Linked DNA regions of Homo sapiens: region 2 is linked to region 1. The links come from fine-mapping of genetic effects on gene expression. Tissue or cell type: whole blood. Region 1 holds a variant in brackets; the other region holds the start of a gene. All regions are shown on one strand. Distances are between the middles of the regions.

Evidence for each region. PIP is the estimated chance that this variant, and not a neighbour inherited with it, causes the effect.
Region 2: FSD1L starts here. The variant in region 1 is fine-mapped to the expression of FSD1L in whole blood (TOPMed, PIP 0.97).

Annotation. Positions count from the first base shown.
Region 1 is chr9:105,539,309-105,547,797 of GRCh38, forward strand. FSD1L (fibronectin type III and SPRY domain containing 1 like) reads left to right here. Exons shown (of 14, transcript NM_001145313.3): 13 at 1-43; 14 at 7,050-8,489. The coding sequence ends at 7,175. Among named protein-coding and RNA genes, the nearest start is that of FKTN, 15 kb to the right of the region's middle. The variant C/G (reference allele first, on the strand shown) is at 4,732.
Region 2 is chr9:105,443,539-105,452,027 of GRCh38, forward strand. FSD1L (fibronectin type III and SPRY domain containing 1 like) reads left to right here and starts at 4,496. Exons shown (of 14, transcript NM_001145313.3): 1 at 4,496-4,697. The coding sequence starts at 4,683. RefSeq lists a silencer at 4,377-4,986.

The DNA of each region.
Region 1 (8,489 bases):
CTTTAAGACAAAATTTACTCAGCCAGTACTACCTGGTTTCATGGTTAGTATGTTTTATATCTTATATATACCTAACATATTTTACTTGGTTGGCAACTTTAAGGAGAATATTCTATACTGTATATTTGGAGAAGGAGAATATTTTGTTTTTTCTTCATATTCTCCTCCATTTCCCCAATTCACCCTCTCCCAAATCTGTGATTGTTTTTATATATTTTTGGTATATTTTATTGAAGTTTATGTTAATACATGAAGTACACAAATCATGTAGTTTGATGAGTTTTTATAGGACTGCACTCATGTGTAACTAGCACTTAGAACATTACGAGAACCTCAGAAGCCCCCTCTAGTGCCCATTTCCAGTCCCTAATGGCCCTTCTCCAGTGTTAGCACTGTATTGACTTTTAATACCCTAAATTTACTTCCTTTTCAGTTTTATATAAACAGAATCATACAGTATCTTTTTGACTCAACATTATGCTTGTGAGATTAATCCATATTCTATGTGGTTATAGTTCATTCATTCTCATAGCTGTATAGTTTTCCATTCTGTGACTATATCAATTGATTTATAAATTTTAATTTAGTTGGATATGTGGGTGGTTTCCATTTGGGGGCTATACAAATAGAACTGCTATGAATACTTTTGTTCATATCTTTTGATAAATGTATGTGTATATTTCCATTGAGTATATACCTATGATTGGGGTTGCTAGATCATATCGTATATGTATAATCAACTGTAAAATTGCCGGTTTTCTGAAATGGTTGGTTATGCTAATTTACAACTAGCAGTATGTAAGAATTTGAGTTCCTTCAAATCCTTGTCAACACTTAGTATTATCTTTTAAAAAATTTTTTGTCCTTCTAGTGGATGATATATTACATTTTGGTTTTAATTTGCATTTCCTTGATTACTAGTGCTGTTGAGCACCTTTTTATATATTTGTTGACTATTTGGGTATATGCTTTTGTGAACTGGCTATTCAGATCTTTTGCTTGTATTTCTATTAGGTTGTCTTCGTGTTTCTTATGGGTTAATTTGTAGGCTCTTCTTCACTCTGGCTTTCCTTTTTCCTTATTGGTATTGTTTGATAAACAAAAGTTAATTTTGTTCAGTTTATCAATTTTTTCATTTACAGTTAGCACTTTTTGTGTTCTGTTTAAGAAATCAGTATGCACCCCCAAGGTCATGAAAATATTCTTCTAAAAGCTTTACCTTGTACATTTAGATATAGACTGCATTTACAATGCAAGTACAATGTAGAATTGATGTGTTTGGTATGAAGTAAGGATCTAGATACGTTCTTTAATTCCCCATGGATATCCAGTTATTCCAGGACCATTTATTGACAAGATCATAGTGCAGTGTCATCTTTGTACAAAATATTAGATGACTGTCTTTGTGTGCTATGCTGAATATATGTATGCACACCACATAGCAATTACATCCTGTGTAATTGCAGGTCTACTCAATTTCAGGCTGAAAAGAAAAATTTGTTTCTCTGCACAAAATAAAACATGGTTTTGAATTTATTTAAGCAAATGTTATTGCTTTTTCCAACTCATAACCTTCTGCATCTTTTCATAGGTTAGGTTCCCGTGGGGAGTTGTGGGATCCAGTTAAAGTTACCATTACTTTGGCTAGAGCTTTTCTTAAATTTGGAGGCTACCTCTATAAGTCAAGATGGTATATTTCAAATGGAATATTTTGCATGTATATTCTTCTGTCATCACCCCTAACTGTAACTTCTCAACTATAAGGAGAAAGTTTTCAGAGTAAGAGTGGGTTGAAAATACAGTGCTTTTAAATCTCATTATCCATAGTAATTATTTATTCCAGATACTTTAATCTCTTAAGTTTAAAACAATGCTAATAACCAGGACACCTATTTTTACATTAAAAGTAAGTGATTAGTGACTAAAGTTATTGCTCATGGAAACATAAAGATACTGGAAGGGAGGGTTGTTTCTTTTTCCTTTTTTTTTTTTTTTTAACTTTGTACAAACCTCTGCCATATTACGCATTTTTGGCTATTTTTCCAAACTGGTCCATCAAGGATGAGTTGTTTACCATGTGGAATGCAGAAAAATTTTTTCCAAGACTTAGGTGTGCTTTTATAAATAGTAGATTTACTTTTAATTTGAATCTATCTCATGTATGTATGTACTGAGTTTATTGTTTTTCATTCCAAATAATACTCTAATTATATTAGTATATGTCATAAGATACTGCAAGAAATTATTTTAAGCTTGTTAAAATTTTTTTTCCTTCATTGAAGGCTTGCTTTTATTAAGTACGTTAATGCCTATTAAATGTTTTGTGTACAAGATTAATTTTTAAGTCAGTTTTATTGAATTTATAGTATGGTGCAGTTCTGTGGTTTTTAGCAAATGCCTGCAGTTGTATAACCACCACCATAATCAAGATATAGAACATTTCCATCACCCTAGAAAATTCCTTTGTGTTCTTTTATAGTGGACCGTTCCACACAACCAGCCCTAGCTATCAGTAACCAGTTCGTAGGCCCTATAGTTGTACCTTTTCCAGAACATCGTATAAATAGAATTGTATGGTATGTAGCCTTTCGATTCCGTACCATGCTGCATTTGAAATTCATCCATGTTGTTGTGGTGTCAGTATTCTCCTTTTTTTCATTGCTGAGTAGTGTTTCATATATGTATGTATCACAGTTTATTCATTCATTCACCAGTTGAAAGACACTTGGGTTTTTCCCAGTTTGGGGCAGTTATGAATAAAATCACTATAAGCATTTACATATGGGATTTTCCCTTGGGTAAATACCTAAGAGCAGTAATAGAGTAGCTGTATCACATTGAAAGTGTATGTTTAACTTCATGGGGAACTACCAAAATGTTTTCCAAAGTGGCTGTACCATTTTTTGCCTTCCTATCAGTGATATGAGAGTTGGTCATATCCTTGCCATTATTTGATATTACCAGATTTTTTGTTGTTGTTAAGCCATTTTAATAGGTGTGTAGTGGTATGTCATTGTGTTTTTATTTGTAGTTTCCTAATGACAAATGATGTTTCATGTCCTTATTTGCCATTCATATAATTTATTTCAAGTATCTGTTAAAATTATTTGCTTACTTTTTAGGACTTAATTGTTTTCTTATTTTTTTATTTTACTTTATTTTTAAGACAGGGTCTCGCTCTGTCACCCAGGCTAGAGTACAGTGGTGCGATCACAGCTCACTGCAGTCACAACTGCCTGGGCTCAAGTGATCCTCCCACCTTAGCCTCCCGAGTAGCTGGGATTACAGGTGCCCACCACCATACCCGGCTATTTAAAAAATGTTTCTTGTACAGATGGAGTTTTGCTATATTGCCCAGGCTGGTCTCAAAGTCCTGGGCTCAAATGATCCACCAGCCTTGGCCCCCCAAAATCCTGGGATTACAGGCATGAGCCACTGCCTGGTTTTCCTGTTTTTAAGAGTTCTTTATAAGTTTGGATGTGAATCCTTTGTCAGATATATGCTTTGCAAATATTTTCTCCTGGTTATGGTTTGCATTTTCATTTTCTGAACATTTCAGAGAGAAGTTTTTCATTTTGTTATGAAGTCCAATTTGGTAATTTTTTTCCCTATTATGGGTAATGCTTTGCTTAACTCAAGGTCACAAAGGTTTTATGTTTTCTTCTTGATTTCCCTTTGCATCTTCATGTTAGATATTTTGAGTAAATATTTTTCTAAATCATTTAAATAATTTCCAAAAAATAATATAGTAGTTTTATAATCAGAAAGTTGCTTTTGTATTTTGGGAGTTATCATTACTGAGCCTGTTAGTTTTGAAAATTTATAATGTTAATTATATAATTACAAATTTCACAGTTCAGTAGATTCTTTGGTATAATAATCTAGTTACTTAGTAGATATTGAACACTTAAGGGTATAATTGAAGGTGATGATACTTAAACAACTTCTAGAATTTCCCTTGCTTTAAGCTTGTGTCTACTATTAATATATACGGTAGTTGATGATAGTGTCAATGATCTGTATTTTCATATTTTAATTCTTTTGACTGTGTCCCAAATCTTATGTCTCACTTTATTGAATTATAGCTGCTCTGTTCACAAGCAGTTTTAATTTTATTTTATTTTTTGTTTTTATTTTTATTATACTTTAAGTTCTAGGGTACATGTGCACAACGTGCAGGTTTGTTATATATGTATACATGTGCCATGTTGGTGTGCTGCACCCATTAACTCGTCATTTACCTTAGGTATATCTCCTAATGCTATCCCTCTCCCCTCCCCCAACCCCACAACAGGCCCCGGTGTGTGATGTTCCCCTTCCTGTGTCCATGTGTTTTCATTGTTCAGTTCCCACCTATGAGTGAGAACATGTGGTGTTTGGTTTTTGTCCCTGCGATAGTTTGCTGAGAATGATGGTTTCCAGCTTCATCCATGTCCCTACAAAGGACATGAACTCATCCTTTTTTATGGCTGCATAGTATTCCCTGGTGTATATGTGCCACATTTTCTTAATCCAGTCTATCATTGATGGACATTTGGGTTGGTTCCAAGTCTTTGCTATTGTGAATAGTGCCGCAATAAACATACATGTGCATGTGTCTTTATAGCAGCATGACTTATAATCCTTTGGGTATACACCCAGTAATGGGATGGCTGGGTCAAATGGTATTTCTAGTTCTAGATCCCTGAGGAATCGCCACACTGTCTTCCACAATGGTTGAACCAGTTTACT[C/G]TCCCACCAACAGTGTAAAAGTGTTCCTGTTTCTCCACATCCTCTCCAGCACCTGTTGTTTCCTGACTTTTTAATGATCGCCATTCTAACTGGTGTGAGATGGTATCTCATTGTAGTTTTGATTTACATTTCTCTGATGGCCAGTGATGATGAGCATTTTTTCATGTGTCTGTTGGCTGCATAAATGTCTTTTGAGAAGTGTCTGTCCATATCCTTTGCCCACTTTTTGATGGGGTTGTTTTTTTCTTGTAAATTTGTTTGAGTTCTTTGTAGATTCTGGATATTAGCCCTTTGTCAGATGAGTAGATTGCAAAATTTTTCTCCCATTCTGTAGGTTGCCTGTTCACTCTGATGGTAGTTTCTTTTGCTATGCAGAAGCTCTTCAGTTTAATTAGCTCCCATTTGTCAATTTTGTCTTTTGTTGCCATTGCTTTTGGTGTTTCAGACATGAAGTCCTTGCCCATGCCTATGTCCTGAATGGTATTGCCTTGGTTTTCTTCTAGGGTTTTTATGGTTTTAGGTCTAACATTTAAGTCTTTAATCCATCTTGAATTAATTTTTGTATAAGGTGTAAGGAAGGGATCCAGTTTCAGCTTTCTACATATGGCTAGCCAGTTTTCCCAGCACCATTTGTTAAATAGGGAATCCTTTCCCCATTTCTTGTTTTTGTCAGGTTTGTCAAAGATCAGATGGTTGTTGATGTGTGGTATTATTTCTGAGGGCTCTGTTCTGTTCCATTGGTCTATATCTCTGTTTTGGTACCAGTACCATGCTGTTTTGGTTCCTGTAGCCTTGTAGTATAGTTTGAAGTCAGGTAGCGTGATGCCTCCAGCTTTGTTCTTTTTCCTTAGGATTGTCTTGGCAATGTGGGCTCTTTTTTGGTTCCATATTAACTTTAAAGTAGTTTTTTCCCATTCTGTGAAGAAAGTCAGTGGTAGCTTGATGGGGATGGCATTAAATCTATAAATTACCTTGGGCAGTATGACCATTTTCACGATATTGATTCTTCCTATCCATGAGCATGGAATGTTCTTCCATTTGTTTGTGTCCTCTTTTATTTCATTGAGCAGTGGTTTGTAGTTCTCCTTGAAGAGGTCTTTCACATCCCGTGTAAGTTGGATTCCTAGGTATTTTATTCTCTTTGAAGCAATTGTGAATGGGAGTTCACTCATGATTTGGCTCTCTGTTTGTTATTGGTGTATAGGAATGCTTGTGATTTTTGCACATTGATTTTGTATCCTGAGACTTTGCTGAAGTTGCTTATCAGCTTAAGGAGATTTTGGGCTGAGACAATGGGGTTTTCTAGATATACAATCATGTCATCTGCAAACAGGGACAATTTGACTTCCTCTTTTCCTAACTGAATACCCTTTATTTCTTTCTCCTGCCTGATTGCTCTGGCCAGAACTTCCAACACTATGTTGAATAGGAGTGGTGAGAGAGGGCATCCCTGTCTTGTGCCAGTTTTCAAAGTGAATGCTTCCAGTTTTTGCCCATTCAGTATGATATTGGCTGTGGGTTTGTCATAAATAGCTCTTATTATTTTGAGATATGTACCGTCAATACCTAATTTATTGAGAGTTTTTAGCATGAAGGGCTGTCGAATTTTGGTAAAGGCCTTTTCTGCATCTATTGAGATAATCATGTGGTTTTTGTCTTTGGTTCTGTTTATATGCTGGATTACGTTTATTGGTTTGCGTATGTTGAACCAGCCTAAGCAAAGCAGTTTTATCTTTCACAAAGTCATTCACATTTATGATAAGTAATAGAACATGGGAAGTACATCTGGATATTGGGATTTGCATTTTTGTCAGGAGTCCTTCTTAAATAATTATATAAGAGTTCTTATAGTTAACACGGTAAGGAAGAAAACAGTGGATTTTACTGTTAACTGAGGGGTGTTAGATTTTTATAGTCTCAGGCCATATCTCATTATCAAAACCAAAAGCATAAGTGGGAAGTAAGTTGGTGCTTTGTATGCTTCCCTTGGTTGTGAAAATTAGCATCAGTAATGATAGGTAATACCTTTTGCCTAGATTAAGCCAATGAAGTTTCTCAATTTCTGCACCCCTGAGTTCCTTCTCTTGGGTGCAGCTTCAGTTGGTTCTGCTACCACCAAGACCTCCTCTGGCCTCTGTGGTTCTAAAATAATTCTGATTTAGTCTTTCCATTTCCCCTCAGCTGAAATATGACAGTTAATGTGTTTGAGAATGATTGATGTTCATATGTGTGGCATTTTGCCTTTGAAATGGAAATTTAAAAATCACTGAAATTCTAGTTTGATTTGCAATCTGACAGGTTTTTTTGTCTTTTCTTAGGTATGGTGTGGTGGACTTTCTTTGAGTACTGGGATGCAGGTTCCAAGTGCTGTGAGAACACTTCAGAAAAGTGAAAATGGAATGACTGGTTCAGCTAGCAGCCTGAACAATGTTGTTACTCAATAGTGTCTACTCAGAATACGTTTACCCTCCGTCTTGATTAGGTGGCCTTTTCTGTGCAGTTACTAATCACAGGAATTTGGTAGTAGTGAAAATCAGGTTTGCTGTGTTCTGCTTTGAGGCCTGGAATCTTTTATCATTAAACACCTAGTACGAAGCATTTGCAGGAACCTACTGTGCAGTATCATAGAAGCAAGCAGATACCAAGCAAAAAACTGATGATTGAAGAGTAAATGGGGGAAAAGGCAGTGTTTAATTAACATAAAAACTCATTTTTGTATTTCTTGGATTACTTTGACTATTCTAATGTTTAATTACATATGGTAACCCTAAGGCCTGGGGAGAAAAGCTTTTAAATCTTGCCTTCTTTCTTCTGTACTTTGTCTTTTTAAAATCTCATTACTATCTATTATTTAGTTCTAACACAGAAGCTTTAAAAATACATAGTCATCCAAGGTTTTCTAAAAATTGAAATCATATGTTGGGAATGGTAAAAAGGTTTTCAAATGGTTTATTTTTCCTCTTTTATAAATAAGTTTTACAAAATTTTCCTCTTTTGTTTATTGACTAGATTGTATATAATTTTCTTTTTTCCAAAATATTGTGATAAGAAATTTCTAGACACAACAGCTTAAAATCACCCAAATTTCAGTTCTTTACCTACTGCACTAACAATGGCAAGGGGGGTATTCTTTATATGTTGCCTTGTTTAACTACAGTTCTTTTCATTCCATCACTTTAGGTGATGGGTAAGATTTTTGAAAGCCTTATATTTTTTGATTTTGTTGTCTAGTTTAATCCTACCTTTAATAGTTGTGTTTGGTAAAATTCCCACTTGAATGTGACACTGATAATAATTATGCTGATTTTTAGCATCTCTTATAGGAATCAAAGTTTATTAAAGTTACATAGAGGATTGAAAAATGTATATCACTCAATTTTTATCTAAGAAGGATAGGTTATAAAGGGAGGTACCTAAATACTCAAATAATGTATATATTCTTTTTCATAACATATGGAATGCTTTAAGCAATTGTTTTGAAAAAAATCTGCGTATCTTTGACTTAATTGGCACATGACTTTTTCAAGCAGCCATTCATTCAGAGGTTTGTTTTCTCTCAGTCCTTTTGCTACATTCACTTTCTTTTCAAAGAAATGTTAATTATTACAAAAATTGACATAGATATCTTTCCCAAACTTGGGGTAAAACCCATGGTTATGTGGAACATAACTGTTCTTAAAAAGTCAATTATAATTTGTAACTCACATCCTTTGAGCTAAACTAAATTAAAATTACAGTATTTAATAATTCTTTGGGCA
Region 2 (8,489 bases), 96 kb before region 1:
ACTCTGTCTATAATGAGTGCCCAGGATCAGAAATTTTTGCTTTGACTTCCAAGGGGTTGCAGGGATTTTGGGTGACTTTGGATTTTACTCAGAAAAGGGCAGGAAAAACAAGACCGGGCATGGTGGCTCATGCCTATATTCCCAGCACTTTGGGAGGCCAAGGTGGGAGGACTGCTTGAGGCCAGGAGTTCAAGACCATCCTGACCAACACAGCAAGACCATGTCTCTGTTAAAAAAAAATCAGAATTAGGTTTCTATGGTTGGGAAGAGATAGCTAATATTTTTTGAATGCTCACTACATGCCAGACACTGTGCTCAAAATTTAATATGAATTATATGATTTACCACTCAACAACCCTTATAGGTGCTACTTTTATGATCTCTATTTCACAGCTAAAGAAACTGAGGCTTAGAGAGCCTTGGAGTCTTCCCAGGCTGGGTGGCAAATGCTAAGACTCAGGCCAGATATAGTAGCAGGGAGCAACGGGCAAAGATTTTGGGCTTCAACAAAGGGCAGCATTTGACTAGTGATTATACTCCAGAAAAAACAGGTATAACAGGGAAAGGGGGAGTTGTGGTGAGAATAGGTCTTTTAAGGCCCCAAAGATCCAGAAGGAAAAAGAGCTGTGCAAGGGTAAAACAGAAGGACATTATGAGTAAGAGAGTAATTATTAGTAACAGCTACTACTTGTTAAATAATACTAGCCAGCATTTGACCTACATAATCCCCTTTAATCCTCACAGCAACCCTAAAAGGGAATTACTACTATTCTGATCGGTATGTTACAGACGAGGAAATTGAGGTTTAGCAAGGTAAGTGACTCACTGAAGGCTACGTTGCTGGTAAGCAGCAGCATCTGGATTTAAATTCACACTGCTGACTCCATGCTGATGGCCCTATACTGACTCCCAAAGGGATAGACTGCTGGCAACACTGAAAGGAAGGAAATTTCTCTCCTAAGAGATGGGGGAATTTCAGAATATACGAGGTAGCCCAGGGCTGCAGGCAATACCTGGCACCACTCAGAGAGGATACAGAACCTGGTTCTGGGAGAGACAGTTTTGCCAGACTCTCTACATCAGCCTTTCTATGAGGCTATCCTAACTTGAGGTTTCCTCAGAAAGAGGTTCCTGGAGGCCCAGAGACCTCAAGAGGATAAATGTCTATGACTAGATAGGCTTTTTAAGAACCAGAAACCTAGGTTTTGAACTGATATTTTTATGCCTCTGTAGTCCTCTCCCCGACCCCTTTTTTTGTAAACAATTTGCTTTCTCGCAGTTCAATGGCTCTCAAGCTTAGAGTTCATCAGAATCACCTAGAGGAAATGCTAAAACACAGATTTTTGGATTCTACTCCAAGAGTTCCTGATTCAGTAGATCCAGGGATAAGGCTGGACAATTTGTACTTCATAGAAGTTATGAGGTGATGTGGATTCAGCTGGTCCAGGGATCACATTTAAGAAAAATGCTTTATTTTATTTGTAAAACTACTTTTGAAAATTTCTAAATGGATTTGGCTGTGAAAAAATAAGTACAGAAAAGGCAAAGGACTTGCCTATAGGCCAGAGGTACTGGGAGGGATTGGGTGGGAGACTTAGAGCCCAGCTCGGTACGTGGCTGTGATGGGAGAACTTGTACAAACTGGGGAAGACAGAAGTCACAGTCAGAAGGAACTAGCTGTTTCCCAGATGGGAACGAGGGGAAGCAAAAGGCCCAGGATGAGCTGGGCAGGAGAGCCAGACTGGCCAGAGACAGAGATCAGGTGAGGGCAGAAGCCAAATGGGGTAGAGATGTTGTCAAAAGCTGCAGTCTGCTGGCTGGGCTACAGGGAAAGAACTTGGGAAGCTGGAGGCAAGGAGCCAGGAGTGAGCTCCTGGGGTGTGGACTGTGACAGAGTCTGGTGATCACATTTCAGCTGCAACTCACTGTCCCCAAAAGCCTCTTTCTTCTTTCTCTGGTGGTGCCTGTCAGTCATAAAGTGCCTAGGAATTGCCCTCAGACAGTAATGAGGTTAAGTCCTTGCAGCAAGAGAAGTGGGGACATCGCCAAGCCCTGTCTCCTCTGCTTAGTCGTGGGTCCCATAGTGGCAAGCAGGGGCAGAGCCAGGAAGCACGCAGTCTGGTGAGTAGACTTTAGATGTTCTCCAATCGCCAGGCTATTTCTCCCTCATGGGAAACTGACTCAACTGCAGTACACAGTGTGAAGGAACGACCTTTGTGGCTGCAGCAGTGGGCTAATGGCTTGGCGCCTGGCTGCACTTGTTATTCCTCACGGAGTTGGGAAAGGTTGAATAAGAGGCTCTCTTCCCTTGGTACTAAGAGATGGGCATCTCTTTGAAGGACTGCATGCCACTACTCCTTTCAGCTGGCACACATAGGCCCACCCTGGACCCTGGCTCTCTAAGCACTACCCACCCAGCCTTAGCCAAGCTCTTCTTTTCCCTTTTGTAACTTTCATTTCATTTCTTGTACATCTCTGTCCAGTTAAAAAAGGATGTATTAAGTGCATACTATGTGGCAGACTCTGAGCTGGGGATACAGATATGGGGTAAAAGAAATTCAGCCCTCAAAAAAAAAATCACAGTACAGTCAGGGGGATCCATGTGGAGATGTAATGACAACATTGTAGAATAAATGCTGTTTCTCAAACACAGAGCTCCTTCTCTCCACAAGGCCTTTGTATTTGTTGTTCCTACTTTCTAGAATGTTCTTCCCTAGATCCTTGTACAATTCCTCTTCTCACTTTATACTCAGGTCATTTCCAAGAGAGATCTTCCCTGACATTTCTATGAAAAATTAAACCCTCCCAATTCTCTGAATCCATTTGCCTTATTTATTTATTTAGGAGCTGGGGTCTCACCCTGTTGCCCAGGCTGGAGTGCAGTGGTGTGATCTAGGCTCACTGCAACCTCTGCCTCCAGGACTCAAGTGATCCTCCCGCTTCAGCCTCCTGATTGGCTCTGGCTACAGGCTTGCAGCACCACGTCTGGCTAATTTTTTTTTTTTTAATTTCTGTAGAGATGGGGTTTTGCCATGTTGCCCAGGCTGGTCTCGAACTCCTGGACTCAAGTGATCCACTCATTGGGCCTCCCAAAGTGTTGGGATTACAGGTGTGAGCCACCATGCCTGGCCTAAGTTTTAATTTTAGCACCTATAACCGTCTAGCACGTTAACTTTTTTTTTTTTTTTGGTTGGTCTTCTATACTAGATTGTAAGCTCTGTGAGAGAAACAGGGCCTTGCCCACTACTGAATTTTGTTTGTAGAACTGGTACAGAATAGGTACTCAATATGTATTTCCCTTTTATTCATTCATCATAAATGACTGTCTAATTGAACTTTTGTGAGCCTCTCCAGAGTCATCCAAATGGAAGATGAGGCCTGTCTGCTTGAGGAAGAACTTTCTCAAGCCTACTAAATTCCAAGCTTTCTAAAATCTTCATTGATGCCTCAGGCCACACCGAGCAGGTTCTAACTCCCCACTAAGAATGACTATAATGGGCCTGGCACATGCCCTGTAACCCACACCTGTAATCCTAGCAATTTGGGAGGCTGAGGTGGGCGGACTGCCTGAGCTTAGGAGTTCGAGACCATCCTAAGCAACATGGCTAGAACCAGTCTCCGCTAAAAGTACAAAAAATTAGCCAGGTGTGGTGGGGGCGCCTGTAATCCCAGCTACTCATGAGGCTGAGGCACGAGAATTCCTGGAACCCGGGAGGCAGAGGTTGCAGTGAGCCAAGATGGCACCACTGCACTCCAGCCTCGGTGACAGACCGAGACTCCATCTCCAAAAAAAAAAAAAAAAAAAAAAAAAGAGAATGACTATAATTTATTCACTACTAATTATGTACCATACGTTATTTAATCCTCACAATCCTCTGCAAAGTCCGCATTATTTCTCTCATTTTACAGATGAAACAAGCTCAGGCAGACTGACTTGCTCAAAATCATACAGGTAGCGAGGTGCCGGGGAGGATGGGTGGGTCCCCGGGAAAAACTGTGCCAGGCCCCAAAGCTCATATTAATCCCACACCCACGTTTCCGCCACTCTCATCCCTATATCCCTCCTCCCACGTTTCCACCACATCCCCTAAAGGTCTTTTCCCACGTTTTCGCTACATCCCCACCCCAGCCCTTTTCCTCCCTTTGGACCGCTGGGTCCGCTCAAGCCTGGCTGCCCCTCGAAGGATAGTGTGGGGAGGGGCTTCAGATGCGTGCTGGGTGGAGGGTGGGCTAATCCGTCTCCAGCACCAGATACTCTTTCCTTCCCGGGCCCTCCGCACCGGCCGGCTGCTGGATGCCCAGTGGCCTATTTCAGGGCCGGAGAGACCGCTATCGCTGGAGGAAAAAGGATGGGGGAAGGGAGTGCAGCCTGCAGAGGCACTAGCGGTAGACAGACGGGCGGCGCTCCCCACCCTCCACGGCTACTTCCCGGGAGCAGTCAGCCGCTGCGCGCAGGCGCGGTGCGCTCCTCAGCCCCTCCCTTCTGCGGGCCGCCCTTTCACCCTGGCAACCGCGGCGTGACTACGGCGCGCGCGGTCTGGGCGCGGACGGGTGGGGCCGGGCGGTGCCGGTGCGGGCTGGGGCAGTGCAGTGAGTAGCGGTCTTGGGGTGTGCGATCTCGCTGAGCCTCCTCACACGGTTCGTCGTCTCGGGTTCGAGCCCAGTGGGCTTAGCCACTCGCCATGGACTCCCAGAAAGTAAGCGGGGGAGGGGAGCCCGGGGCTACCGAGACAAGCCGGGCCGGCACAGGGTGGGCGGGGCGCCTGGGCCCGTGGGCTGTGGGTGCGCGGGGTGGGCCTGGCCGGGCGTCCGGGCTGCTGCTGCGGAGGGCAAGGCCGCCCGGCCGCTCTCTGGGCGGGAGCTAAGAGGCGCCCACACGGATGCGGGGACCGCGCCCGGTGACTCGGGCTGGCCTCTGCTCTGCGCGCTGTCCGGGGCCCTGACTCTGGAGGAGAAACGGAGCCATCCCCCTTTTAAAATCAGCCACTCTGCAGCGCTTTAGGCCGGTTTTCATGCCTGCAGACTGCGAGCGTGCTGGTGGGGGTGTATCCCTCCTCAGCAGGTGAGGAAACCGAGGCACAGCCTTTTTGGTGTCTCCCTGCTGACGCCGAAAGCTGGGGCTTTCTCCTCGACCAAGTCTCGTCTCAGCACCACGCTCTTTAGGTCAGGGACCGAATCTCCTTTGTACCGCCCACCGCTCCCCTTCCCATGACTTTTCCTAAGTAGATCTTAGTGTTTAGTGTTCGTTGAATGGAGGGAAAAGACTTCAATTGTTAGGGCAGCCTTCCCACTCTCTGACCAGTTGGTGTTGCTGGGCACAGTTACTTAGGGGTCGTTGTGGAATGTTTTATACTTTCCGAACAGTTGAGGAAAGGTTATATAATCGTAAAGGTTCAATTCAGAAGTATTTGGAGAACAAAGCCAATGTCTTGAATACAGTTAGAAGTGAATTATTCAGTCATAATCTCCATATGAAAATAACCACCCTGTTCTCTTTGTTAGACTATAACGTAATTGAAATATAGTACAGGGTAGGAAAGAAAAAACAAGGAGTATTAATAATGTAGCAGGGAAAACAAAGACATATCTAAGAGACTATTCTTTTCTATTATTAGAAAGCACGGGAAAGACTTAGAACAACGTTTTCTACAATTTTGTCTACATTCACCTTCTTGAGGATCACTTCACTGAGGGCATGAGAGAATAATGATGTGTTGAGCATTGACTATTACAGTATTTAACAAATATGCATATGATTTCATTGTATGTGTTGGTCTTGAAACTCACCTTGGAATGCATGACTATTCTTAAGGCATTTTTTAAAAATTAGATTTTGTGTATTTTGAGTATGTATAGGTTTAAAATATTGTCTCTGCCTAAATTTGTAAAACATCTCTCAGCTTATTAGATAAAAGAAATGATATTTGAATGGACATTAGCAGAGGTCAAGTGAAGGAGCAAAGTCCGGAGACATGGGTTCCAGGATGCTATTTACTAGCTCTGTGATAAGGAGCAAGTCACTTAACTGTGATTAATCTGTTTCCTCATCTATGCAGTAGAAGTAAGAGTATTTTATAGTGTCATAGTAAAAATCTGATAAAATAGTTTGTTCTGAAAACACAGCATTTTAAAGTTTACAAAGTATGACCACTAAAATACTGTGTCCCATAAAATACAAAAAAATGTGTTTTAATATTGATCATCATACTTTATCAGGGATGCATTATTCCTTACTTTAATGAGTTGTGACTCCTGGAAGGTCATGCTACTAGCCCTAAGGCTAAGATTTGAACCTATTTGTTCTCATTTCGAATGATGTGTTAGGGTACCTACAGGTTACCACGTGCAGTTTCCTGAGAGGTAGCAAAGAATTAGCTTCTCTTTCTTAGTAGTAGTAGTAATGTATCTTATTTGTGATATCTTTGAGAATCAACTTCTCAATATTAGAAAATATGTTGAATTTCATTGGTGGTACCAAATCTTTCTAATGAAAAAACAAACACCCTTTGGTTTATAGCTGTAAAAAGAATGTCCGGGATTAATGTGTATAACCAGTTCAGTGCTCTGAACCTGAGCTTCCTTTTCTCGTATGAATTCCTGCAGAATCACAAGCCTCAAATAGTAATGATCTAAGCTGGATATTGTTCTCTTTAAATAAGACAGTAGTACACCCCAGACATGATTTTTAGATACTATTTTCTGTTATGGAATGTACATTGAAAATAGTAGTAGGGGTAGTACCTCAGTCAGTAGAGTATAAGAAAAATAGGTACTGCAAAGTGTGAGGAAGGCCTGAATATATACCTGAATGTTTGTTAGGCATTGGGATTTGGGCTTTACATTAGTAAGAGGATGGCTCTGGAGCCAAGTCTCCAGTTCTACTATTTATAAGCTGTATGAGCTGGGATAGTTTGCTCTGTCTCCATTTCTTCATCTGTAAAACAGAGATAACAATAATTGTAATTCTCTCACAAGATTATTGTGAGGATTGTGTTCTTTTTTTTTTTTTTTTGAGACGGAGTTTTGCTCTTGTCGCCCAGGCTGGAGTGCAACGGTGCAATCTTGGCTTACTGCAACCTCCGCCTCCTGGGTTGAAGAGATTCTCCTGCCTCAGCCTCCTGAGTAGCTGGGATTACAGGCGCCTGCCACCACCCCTGGCTAATTTTTGTATTTTTAGTAGAGACGGGGTTTTACCATGATGGCCAGCTGGTCTCAAACTCCTGACCTCACTCAGGTGATCCGCCAGCCTTGGCCTCACAAAGCGCTGCGATTACAGGCTTGAGCCACTGTGCCCGGTCTTGCATTCATTTTTAAAACCCACTAAACAGTGCCTAGCATACAAAAATACTGTTAGCTACTGTTATTAATTTAATAATCCTAACTTCAAAGTAACTTTCTCCTTTTAAAATTAAGTGTAGACATTTTTCCTTTTTTTTGAGACGAAGTCTCGCTCTGTGGCCCAGGCTGGAGTAGTGCAGTGGCGCGATCTTGGCTCACTGCAAGCTCCACCTCCCAGGTTCACGCCATTCTCCTGCCTCAGCCTCCCGAGTAGCTGGGACTACAGGCTCCCGCCACCACGCCTGGCTAATTTTTTGTATTTTTAGTAGAGACGGGGTTTCATCATGTTAGCCAGGATGGTCTCTATCTTCTGACCCCGTGATCCGCCCGCCTCGGCCTCCCAAAGTGCTGGGATTACAGGCGTGGGCCACCGCGCCCGGCCCGACATTTTTACTTTTAAAGCATCTTTTCTGCTATTATATCTGTAAGAAACGATTCACATGGTGGTTCCAGAGAAGAGTTGTTACATTCTAATAGAAAGAGGTTTGGAAGTTCTGAGTCATGCAGTCTGACAGTAGAGGTTAACTTAACTAGGCAGTCTTACAGAAGCTTCATGGTGGCTAGTCAACAAATGGATTAGCTTGACCAGCTGCTTTTTTGTTTGTGAAAATAACTTGGACTTCAGTGTTAATGTTAGCAGCAGATGCTCTGTTTGAGTAGAGGAAGAAAACGTAATAACCCCGGGTATGTAGGCATACTGTTGGATACAGAAAACCACAGTATTAACTCCTGGAAATAAACAGAGGGATTTTGTTTATATCGAGTTTCTGGGACGCTTTCGTGAACAGGATGTGTTATGGATAGGTGGCTTTTGTTTGATACTCAAACCTTTTGATTATGCCTTTAAACGGCTTTAAGATAAAATCCCAAAGGTTTCTTTACCGGATGAAATGTGCACGTTCAAAGAAAACGTTGAAACAAATAAGACATTTGTACCTTTTTAGAATCTTGGAGCTTGGAATTTTATAGTTTAACTTTTTGTACAGATTATTCACATACATAGGGATCACTCTTTCTAAGAAAGGTACTTACTGTAGGAATAAGAAAGGGTGGAGAGGAAGGGAGATGAGAGCTCAGAGGAAGGAAGTCACCAAGAGCATATATTGTCACTTGTTTGCTTTTCCCCATTATTTTTCCTGCATATTCTTCCT